Regions from separate parts of the Homo sapiens genome. Here region 1 is linked to region 2. Evidence: fine-mapped expression QTL. A gene starts in region 2. The other region holds a variant in brackets. All regions are shown on one strand. Distances are from middle to middle.

Region 1 (5,306 bases), 27 kb after region 2:
TGGCATGTCACAGAGGAAGGCCAGAGGGCCACCAGCCATGCCAGGGGTGGGGCATAGCCAGACTCAGGCCAAAGCACGGTTGCTGCCAGGCGCTGACAGGAAGAGGAGCCGCCTCAGCAGGACAAGGCAGGACCCGTGGGAAGAAAGAAGCTGGAGCAACCAGAGATGGAGCAGAGCTACCCCTGGCCCTCGAGGGACCAGGGCTGGGGGCCTGGCTCTTGGCAGGGTAAGGAAATCCTGCACCTGCAGAGGGGTCCAGGGGAGGAAGGGGTTGGAAGGTGGGGAGATGTCACCTCTGATGGTACAGCCTCACTCAGTATTACCATTCCTGCCCAAGAGAGGGGACACTGGCCCCTTAGACTCCAAGGCATCATGCTTTGGGTAGTTGGGATAGATCAGAGCTGGTCTTAACCAGAGTGCAGCTCAGAGAGCTGCACTAACTCACTTCTCTTGAGGAAACTGAGGCCGGGAAGAGGGATGTGAATTTCCCAAGGTCACTGAGCAGCAGCCAGTGGTAGGACTGGGACTTCAGCCTGTGTGCTTTGACCCCTGGTTCTGTGTCTTTCCTCTTTCCCACAGCAGCCTCGTCGTCTCAGGACCTGGCTAGGTCAAGGGTCCGCCCTCCCAAACAGGGTGTAGCTCTGAACTCCCCCTGGCCCCAGCACACCCTGATAAGCAGGATTCAGATTGGGCATGGGACAGGACAAAGGCTCTGAGGAGGCATGAGTGGAGTAGTAGAGAGAACACAGGACTCTGGGTTCTGAGCCAAGCTCTGCCATCCTGCAGCCATCTGACCCCTGGCCAGGCCTTCCCCCAACTTCCTCAGCTGTGAAACGCGGCAGGGCTGCAGATGACGTAGGTGGGCAGAGGCCCTCTGGTGCCTACTGCTAGACACCCTTCTACTCTGGTGGGAGACCTTGTGCTCAAACGCTCTCAGAAGTCAGGGCAGTTGGGAGTCCAGGTCACACACACTCACTGGGGCCCTCTGTGCAGAGCGAGGCCAGTCCTGAGAATGCCGCGCGGGAGCGGAGCCGGGTCAGGACGCTGCGCCAGGCCTTCTTGGCCTTGCAGGCTGCTCTGCCTGCCGTGCCGCCCGACACCAAGCTCTCCAAGTTGGACGTGCTGGTGCTCGCCGCCAGCTACATAGCCCACCTCACCCGCACACTCGGCCACGAGTTGCCTGGCCCTGCCTGGCCGCCCTTCCTGCGTGGACTCCGCTACTTGCACCCTCTCAAGGTAAGTCACAAGCCCTGGGACTTGAGAGGCGGATCTTAATGCCCAGGGCCTTGGAGAAAGGGATTGGAATGAGGGGGGACATTGGACTTGGGCCCCCTGCCCTGTGCAGAACTGACGTCGGAGCCAATTTCTCCTGCTGTCTCAGAGGGAGAGGAGCCAAGGCTGACCCTTGGGGCTGCGCTGACCCTGGGTTTCTCATGGGAGTGTGGCTGGAAATGGCTTCATGGGAATGCACCTCCTTGAAGAGGAGGGAAAGACTCTGGGGTTCTTAGAGTCACAGGGAAAAATGTAGCAGGTTCCAAGTCTGGGGCCTGGGAAAGGAAATTATACCAAGGAGAGTCCTAGATCCCCATGCAGCTTCAGCCCATTGTGCCTGCCTTGGTGCTTTCTAGGCTTCTGTTGCAAGAGAGGTCTGTCCTCCAGGAGAACAACGGTCTGAGGGACCGTCATTCTAGAAGCAACCAAGCTGGGGGAGTTAGCAGGCAGCAGTACAGGGAAGGCGCGCACCACTTGCCAGACTGCAATCTAGCTTTTCTCAACCTCAGTTTTATTACACGTAAAATAGAAGCTAACATGAGCCTTACTTCTCTTCCAGAGTACAAAATGGAAAGTCTAATGAACATTAATCATCTTTGCAATAACAGCTAACAGTTGAGTGCTAAAGATAGGCCAGGAGCTGGGTTAAGTACGTTAGTGTATTTTTGTCTTTTAATCCATGCAAAAACCAAATGAGGATTACTTTACAGATGAGGAAACTGAAGCTTAGGGAGGTTATGAGGCTGAAAGCGGTTTGAACTCAGGGGTGTCTGACTTCAGACCCTAAGCTCATAGCCACTAAACAGTCTCCAGGGACAGCGCCATAAGGAGCTGGTTGAAGAGTGCACTGTGTTAAAAAGGAAGGGTCATCTTTGCCCTCTGAGGATAACATTGCAGTGGTATCAACTTTTTTATTTTATTATTTATTTATATATGTACTATTATTTTTTTGAGACAGAGTTTCACTCTGTCGCCCAGGCTGGAGTGCAGTGG[C/T]GCAATCTTGGCTCACTGCAACCTCCACCTCCCGGTTCAAGTGATTCTCCTCCCTCAGCCTCCCGAGTAGGTGGGATTATAGGCGTGCACCACCATGCCCGGCTAATTTTTCTATTTTTAGTAGAGATAGGGTTTCACCACTTTGGCCAGGTTGGTCTCAAACTCCCGACCTCAGATGATCCACCCACTACGGCCTCCCAAAGTGCTGGGATTACAGGTGTGAGCCACCACACCCAACTATTTATTTATTTACTTATTGTTGAGACAGGGTCTCACTGTCGCCCATGCTGGAGTGCAGTAGCGCAATCATAGCTTACTGTACCCTCAAACTCCTGGGCTCAAGGAATCCTCCCACCTCAGCTTCCCCAGTAGCTGGGACTACAGCCTTATGCCACCACACCTGGCTTTTTTTTTTCTTTTTTTTTTTGTAGAGACGGGGTCTCACTTTGTTCCACAGGCTTGTCTCAAACTCTAAGCTCAAGTGATCCTCTCACCTCTCAACTTTATTTTTATGATACTTTTCACCACCTCTTTCCCCTAAATGTCATAGTTCTGAAATGTCTTAAAACTTGGTTTTTTTCTTCAATGCAAATGTAGCTAAAATGTATAAATTTGAGACTAAGTGGGGAACTCTGAAATGTCAGTGGTGGTGCAGGGTCCTGGGATGATATAGTAGTTTCCTTCGCTGTAAAATAGTGACCAAGGCAAGGCCCTTGCTTGTAGTAGGTGATCAACAGCTATGCTGAAGAATGAACCAATGAGGGCCCGGTTAGGTCCAGCACTCCAGCACATCCACAGGGTGGGGCAGTTGGCCAGGAAGCAGCTCCCTCAGCTCCCAGGTGGAGAGGTTGTGAACAGGAGGGCGACCTCAGGGCAATCAACCTGGTGTATTCTGGGACTGCTCATGCTCCTGCTGGAAAGATGGGCAAACCTTGGAGGACCCAGCTTGGAGTTTTTCCTGGCTCTGCTGCTCTGCCCATTGCTCAGCCTCTGGCTGTTGCCAGCTCTGCCCAGGCCAGCTGATCTTCTGTCCACCTCCCTCCCAACAGAGCGCTGCTCTTCTTGGGGCCCTCTCCCTCCTCAGATGGCTCCTCCTGTGTCTCTCATCCAGGCTCTGGGTGATCAGGAGAATGTGTGGGGCTGTACATGATGATGACCCTGATCAGAGCAGTGATGGCTGGGGAAGGTGTCAGGGAGGGATGCTGGAGAAGGCTGGGTTTTGGGTGTCAAGGATCCTGGACCACGAAGGGCTGCAATAGCAGCATTTCTCACTTCCCAATCTGTGTCTTGCAGAAGTGGCCGATGCGATCTCGTCTCTATGCTGGAGGCCTGGGGTACTCCGATCTTGACTCCACCACAGCCAGCACCCCCAGCCAAAGAACAAGAGATGCAGAGGTGGGGTCCCAAGTCCCTGGAGAGGCAGATGCTCTCCTTTCCACCACACCACTCTCACCAGCTCTTGGTGACAAATAATTATCACACTCGCCCTTTTCTCCTAGACTGTGACTCATGCTTATGGGCCTGGATTTTCTACCAGCCCCCAGATTCTCAGCCATCAGACTTGACTCAGACTCAGCTCCCAAGTTCCAGCATGCAGACCAAGAGAAGCAGTAGCACTTCTGTGATGGACAGTACCTAGAGGGGCACAGGTTGGAGAGCCTCCTCCTTGGTCCCCAGGAGGGGACTTCCCCATGGCTCTTCTGTGACAGCTACTGGGAAGTGGGAGAGAAAGAGGTATAATTGGGCTCAAAGTTGAGGTAGGGAACCACCCTAGCTTTCTTCCCCTAAGGTTTCTACAAACCCTCTGCAGATAGCAAAAAGGCAGGTGCAGAGGGAGGGGCCTGGGATGGCACCAGCCCCAGGTGCTGATGGGAAAGCCAGGTGGCCGGATAGGCTCCTGGTAGCTCCAAGTGTAAACAGATCTGGGCTGGGTCACACAGCCAGAGGGGAAACTGAAGAAGGAAATGTGCTTTCTAACTGCATCATGAGATGCTTACCTGATGTTAGAGAGATAGTGAGGAATTCAGGATTCCTCCCTCTGTAGTATGGGCCTTTCCAGAAGCTGCCCCTCACCACTACATTTTCTCTCCCTCTCGGCTCCTGCACTCTTCCACTCTTTTCTTTTCTTTTCTTTTCTTTTCGTTTCTTCTTCTTTTTATGTAGAGATGGGGGTCTTGATATGTTGCCCAGGCTGGCCTCGAACCCCTGGCCTCAAGTGATCCTCCCACCTCAGCCTCCTAAAGTGCTGGGATTACAGGCATGAGCCACCATGCCCAACCCCACTGTTTTCTTGACATGAGTTATATCTACAGGTTAAGCCATACATCTTGCATTGCTTACATTCCAGTTTCCAGAGAAACTTTTAGATAGTCCCAGATGCCTAGTTTGAGATCTTAACCAGAAGCAATTCTACCTTAATTGAACCAAGCAGCAACTTATGGCCTTAAATATGAAGGATATTGACAGAATCAATTACATCCTTGAAGGACCTTAAGAGAAGATCAGGTATATAGGGGGTGATCATTACAGTCTTCTCTTTCCATTATGTTAGAAACCTGCCCTCAAGCAAAAACAAGATAGGCCTGCCTTCAACTGCTCAACCACTCAATTGGCTCCTTGTAAAATTTGTGTTCGAGGCTTCCCTGGCTCTGGAGTTATTTCTATAGTCTATTAGCTCCCTAGGGCCGGCTCCGCCTCATGGAGATCGTCCTTGGGGGCTTTCTCTAAGTCCTACCATGGGGTGCCAGAAATGTGATATAGCTTCGGTGAAACTCATCTCTGGCCCTAAAGAAATAACTTGAGGACTAATCATAGAATCTACACACACTGAAAATAACTTTCCAGATCGGATGTAGCCTCAAACCTGGCACCTGAAGTCCAGATGGAACAAATTACCTTTCGGTTAAATTTCAGCCCTTCAGAGTGGGAGGGGACGGGCATGACCAACTAGAGTCCCAACAAGGTTATCCTTAGACACACACCATTGTTGTTATCATGAATGTAAGTGAGCTCTGGGCAGGCTGGGAATGGTTGGGGTCTGG
Region 2 (5,370 bases):
CTTGCTCATCCTGCTCACCTTCTGCTATGCCACCTGGTTCCTACCAGGTCATGGACCAGTACCAATTTGCAGCCCAGGGGGTTGGGGACCCCTGGTTTAAGACACCCAGTTTGTAGTGCTTTCTTACAGCAAACTGCCAACTAATACACCACCTAAATGCTGATGATTGCCAATTCTCCACCTCCAATCTCTAAGCCCCAGGCCACTTCAGGCATTGAATATCCTACTAATTTGTGCCTGAGTTTTAATTTATAAAGGTGGCTGAGTGAGGACATGAAGAGGTCACTGCTATTGAAAGAAAAGCTTAATGTTATTTGCAGTTCCCCTAGAAACAAAAGGCACGGTCACAGGGGGAAGTGCCAGTGTCACTCAGGAGGCAGAAAGAAGCGAAGGGAAGGTACAGGCCTTTATTGGGGTTTACTTCTCCCAGTAAGGCAGGAGAAGCAGTTTGGGACTGGCTAGTTTGAATAATTCCAGAGTGCTCTGGGGCACAGGGACAGGTCCTGGTTACCTGGTCCTGGGTTGATTTAGGGCAGGGGAGATACTGGCTTGGAATGTGAAAGTTAGAGAAAGGAAGTGCTCAGAGTGTGAGCTCTGGATTGTAGGGGAGATGTAAACAACCTTGGCCATTAGGTTGGCCCTGTGATTTATGGATGCCAAATAGACAAATACAGAACCTAAGGAAACACAGTTAAAACACCTACCAGCACCCCAACTTCTACATGTCTGTGTCTAAATGCATCATCTTCCTCTTCAAACCTTCCTCTCCTCTGTTTCCCTGTCCCAGGGATGGACACTTTATATCTGTGCAGTCAGAAACCTGGAGGTCATCCATGTTCCTCCTTCTTCCCCTGCCTCCAATCTACTACCAGGTCCTATCAATTCTGCCACTGATCTTGAAGATCTTCACTCCTCTCCTGGGTATCCTCCAGTCCGGGCATCTTTTGAGCCTGGCGTTCTGTTAGCAGCCTCCCAGTGGCCTCTCTGCTTCTACTTTCCTCCTCCTCCAATCTATTCTCCAAGCAACTGAATGATTCTCCTAAAACATAACTCATGTCACCCTTCCCTTCTTAAAACCCCTGGATGGCTTTCCTCTGACCCTAGGATAAACTGCAGCAATTATGTGGTCCTTGACCACCCACATGCTCCAGCCACACCAACTTTCTTTGTTCCCTTAAGACATCCTTCACCTCCAGGCTTTTGCCTTTGCTGCCCCCTCTGCTAGAACACCCTCGCGTGAAGTCCGGGCACCTCCGCAGTGCTCCCATGGCAGCTGGTACTTCTCTTGTGTGGACCATGTTAAGCCCTGATGACTTGTGGACCTCCTAGAAGCTTTACGGTGTATTGATACCTAGGCTCCTCTCCAGACTAACTGTATCGGGGGTAGGGCCTGGGCACTGGTAGTTTTAAAAATCCTAGATGATTCCGATCTGCAGTCAAGGTTGAAAGCCACTACTCTTAGTAGACGACCTCCTATATTTCAATGAAGACACGGACAGTAACATGGGGGGTCTGTATCAAGTGCCTGGTACAGGGCGGGTGGTGAGCAAATTATCTACTGTACGAGGACTGTGTGGCAGGGACTGTATGAGACAATGCAGAGTGACACTGCAGGAAGGTGCATGTGTTGCAATGCCACCACTGAGCAGCTGAAAGCTTTGTGACAGTGTGGGGTGTCACAGTCGGACAGTGACTGGTGAGGGTCACTGTGAATGGCTGTAGTGTGTGACAGAGCAGAATGTCACTGCAGGAGTAGCTGTGTCCTGTGCGTGACTGACTGCGAGCGCCTAAGGGACTCTGGCCAGGCTGCTGGACTCGGGGCGTCGCCGGGGAAGAGTTTAAGGGAGCTGGAGATGCCCCGCACCAAGATGGCAGCTGGGGGAGGCCGCTTGTCTCGGGCTGCACAGCCAAGAACCGCGGAGGGGAAGAAGGCAGGGGAGGGCGGGAGGCCATTCGCAGGTCACTCGGGTTAGATCCGCGCGAGGCACTAGGCGACCAGCCACCCAGCCCCGCGACCAACTAGCGCCGCCTCTCGCCGCCCATCCCGGGGCACCGGCGGTGGGCGGGGCCAGCAGCGCAAACTGCCTGCAGCGGGGACCGGACCTGCACAGGCCGCCTATGGCGGGCGGCGGGTGGGACCGCGAGTTACAGCCGGCCAACTGGGGCCAGCCAGGAGCCTGAGGGTCGGAAGCCCCCAACACAAGATGCTGAGCTCCTTCCTGAGCCCCCAGAATGGCACCTGGGCAGACACCTTCTCTCTGCTCTTGGCTCTTGCCGTTGCCCTCTACTTGGGCTACTACTGGGCATGTGTGCTTCAGGTGGGTGCGGGTCCACCGCTCTGGCCAGCGGGTTTGGGTGTAGGGGGCAGCTTCCAGACACGGGCTTGGGCCCTTGGTGGGAACTGGGATGGTTGGGCTTCCCCACAGGTGAAATTTGCTACCACCGAATGGAGAGTCGGCTCTGCCTCTCTAGTGCCTCTGCATCCCATGTGATCCCCATGCCAGCTGGGCCTTTTGGGTACCGGAGGGTGCTGCTCCCTATAATGTGGACAAGCATTTGGGGAAAGGTGGGGTGGAAGGCATCCTGAGGTATCAGAGATGTGCACACTTTGCGTTCCTTTTTAGGTGGTTTAGCTGAGTCTTTCAGCTGCACTGAAGGAAGGAACCAGAGGTCTGTGGGTCATGGCTAACTCCCAATACCACCCACCCCCCAAATAGCTTAGTAGGACCTCCCTTCCCTTAAGGGCTGGCTGAGGTCAGAACTGGCCTAGCTCAGAACTGATGGATGACCCCAACTGTCCTTGCTCATTCAGCCGTTTTATGTTCCAGGCTCTCCATATAGTGAGTGTGATGAGAAAGTTTGAAGAGGTTGATTTTGATGAATTTGGAGACTTTTCTCACTGAAATTTAGATATATACATAATTTACATATCCAGGAAAAGCCAAATCTCTTCATCTTCATTAAACTCTGTTCTAGGTAGCTGAGTCTAACAAGACACCTACTGGTTCGAGTCCTTTAAAAAGGTCTATAGGAGACTTTAGTGTTACCTAGACTTTTCCATATTTTCAGAGCTTTCTACATTAGCATATATTGTTTACTAAATGTCTTCCTTAGGGCCGGGTGTGGTGGCTCACGCCTGTAATCCCAACACTTTGGGAGGCAGAGGCGGGAGGATCGCCTGAGGTCGGGAGTTCGAGAGCAGCCTGACCAACATGAAGAAACCCCATCTCTACTAAAAATACAAAAATTAGCCAGGCATGGTGGCACATGCCTATAATCCCAGCTACTCGGGAGCCTGAGGCAGGAGAATCACTTGAACCTGGGAGGCGGAGGTTGCAATGAGCCTCGTGCCATTGCACTCCAGCCTGAGCAACAAGAGTGAAACTCCGTCTCAAAAAAAAAAAAAAAAGTCTTCCTTAATAAAACAGTTAAAAACTCCAAGCCTCACAATACTCTGTAGGCCTCACTTTATACATCAGATTTGGAAGGTCACTTCAGAACAAAACTGCCCCTAAGGAAACACTTTCCTTTACTTGCAACTAGCTGCACAGAAATCTGGGCCCCTGCTGCTTTATAGACTAAACCCTTTATAAGCTAACGAATACTGGTTAAAATGCAGGAAAAGTGCCATTCTGGAGGCCCTCTAGATACGGTGTTTGGATTGGCCAGCACTGTAATGGATCTATACTGATTTAAGCATAGCAACCAGTGCCATATTGTAATACTAATTCATTCTCAGGAGGGAGTCAAGAAACATTTTCTTGAGTTAAAATCAAATTAACCCACATAAATCAAACCTGTGAACAAATTTATAAGTCTTGTTCCACACTACTGGGCCGTTTGACCAAGGAATTAATAAACTGATAGTAACTCAGCCGAGCACAGTGGCTCATGCCTGTAATCCCAGCATTTTGGGAGGCTGAGGCGGGCGAATCACTTGATGTCAGGAGTTCGAGACCCGCCTGGCCAACATGGTGAAACCCCTATCTCTACTAAAAATACAAAAATTAGTTGGGTGTGGTGACGCAAGCCTGTCATCCCAGCCACTCAGGAGGCTGAGGCAGGAGAATCGCTTGAACCCAGGAGGCGGAGGTTGCGGTGAGCTGAGATGGCACCACTGCACTCCAGCCTGGGTGTCAGAGCAAAACTCCGTCTCAAAAAAAAAAAAAAAAAAAGGATAGCAACTCAAAATCTTGGCAATTAGGAGGCAATACCCGACAGTGACTAGACAGCGCAGGCTCTAGAGTCAGACAGACCTGGGTTTGAATCTCCTGCTCTGCCACTAACTAGCTCTGGCAAGCTTCTGGCCCTTGACAAGTTATTCAGCATTCAAATCCGTTCACATAGGGGGATCACAGAACCTATTTCATGGAACTGTTATGAAAATCACAAGACAAAATTTGTGTGAAGTGCTTAGCAGAATGCCTGGAGCTTAATGAGAACTCAACAAATCTTACCTACAAGTACTGGTGGTAATGTCATAGTTAATAATTTTGTTTTGCCTCTTGCTTGCTGTGTAACTGGACAAACCACTTAATCTCTGTCAGTCATAACTTCTTCACTTATAAAATATCTCATAAGTTTGGGCTTAGCCCAGTGCCTTCACACGACTGACAGCTGTCGTAATTCCAGGGCTTAAGGACTAGGGTCCAAAGTCACATCTCCCAACAGTTGCACTATCGACTTGGCATCTCTACCATTTGCCCCTGTAGACTATAGGAACTGTACTGGAGATAGAAATCTGGTCCTCATGTTCCTTAGGGCCCACTGCGGATATGCAGTTTCTATTCTTGAACCTATGGCATACTCCTCCTTCACATGCCTTCCACGTGGCTAGGCTCTCTCATTCACTTGATGTCTGTCCAGAACACAGCAGAGAAGCTGAAAGTCAGGGCTTAGTGCCCACTGACCTCATCTGTCCCTGTTATTTCATCCTTGTCACCTTCCCCCTAGCTGGCATGAAGGAAGAAAAAAATCGATTCACATTAGGGCTGTTCTTCCTTTAGAGCACAATCTAACAGCAGGGGCCCCACAAGTAAGAGAAGATAAGGTCCCCGGTAGAAAGAAGCCCCTTAGGCCAGACGCAGTGGCTTACACCTGTAATCCCAGCACTTTGGGAGGCCGAGGTGGGCGGATCACGAGGTCAGGAGATCGAGACCATCCTGGCTAACACAGTGAAACCCCATCTTTACTAAAAATACAAAAAAAAAAAAAAAAATTAGCCAGGTGTGGTGGCGGGCACATGTAGTCCCAGCTACTCGGGAGGCTGAGGCAGGAGAATCGTGTGAACCCGGGAGGCAGAGATCTTGCAGTGAGCCGAGATCACGCCACTGCACTCTAGCCTGGGCGACAGAGTGAAACTGTGTCTCA

Which allele goes with the higher level. Positions count from the first base shown, and alleles are read on the strand shown. Sizes are in standard deviations (SD) of each study's normalised expression.
In carriers of allele T in region 1, the expression in thyroid of the gene that starts at base 2,071 in region 2 tends to be higher than with C alone (small effect, 0.22 SD a copy in GTEx).

Evidence for each region. PIP is the estimated chance that this variant, and not a neighbour inherited with it, causes the effect. A credible set is the group of variants that fine-mapping cannot tell apart.
Region 1: its variant is the best candidate, but not a certain one, in a credible set for the expression of ABHD1 in thyroid (GTEx, PIP 0.55).

The regions. Positions count from the first base shown.
Region 1 is chr2:27,149,130-27,154,435 of GRCh38, forward strand. It overlaps TCF23 (transcription factor 23), which reads left to right. Exons shown (of 3, transcript NM_175769.3): 1 at 1-226; 2 at 994-1,236; 3 at 3,559-5,306. The coding sequence starts at 5. The coding sequence ends at 3,738. Among named protein-coding and RNA genes, the nearest start is that of TCF23, 2.8 kb to the left of the region's middle. RefSeq lists an enhancer at 3,785-3,844. The variant C/T (reference allele first, on the strand shown) is at 2,266.
Region 2 is chr2:27,121,745-27,127,114 of GRCh38, forward strand. ABHD1 (abhydrolase domain containing 1) reads left to right here and starts at 2,071. Exons shown (of 9, transcript NM_032604.4): 1 at 2,071-2,318. The coding sequence starts at 2,205. RefSeq lists silencers at 1,916-1,995, 2,016-2,155.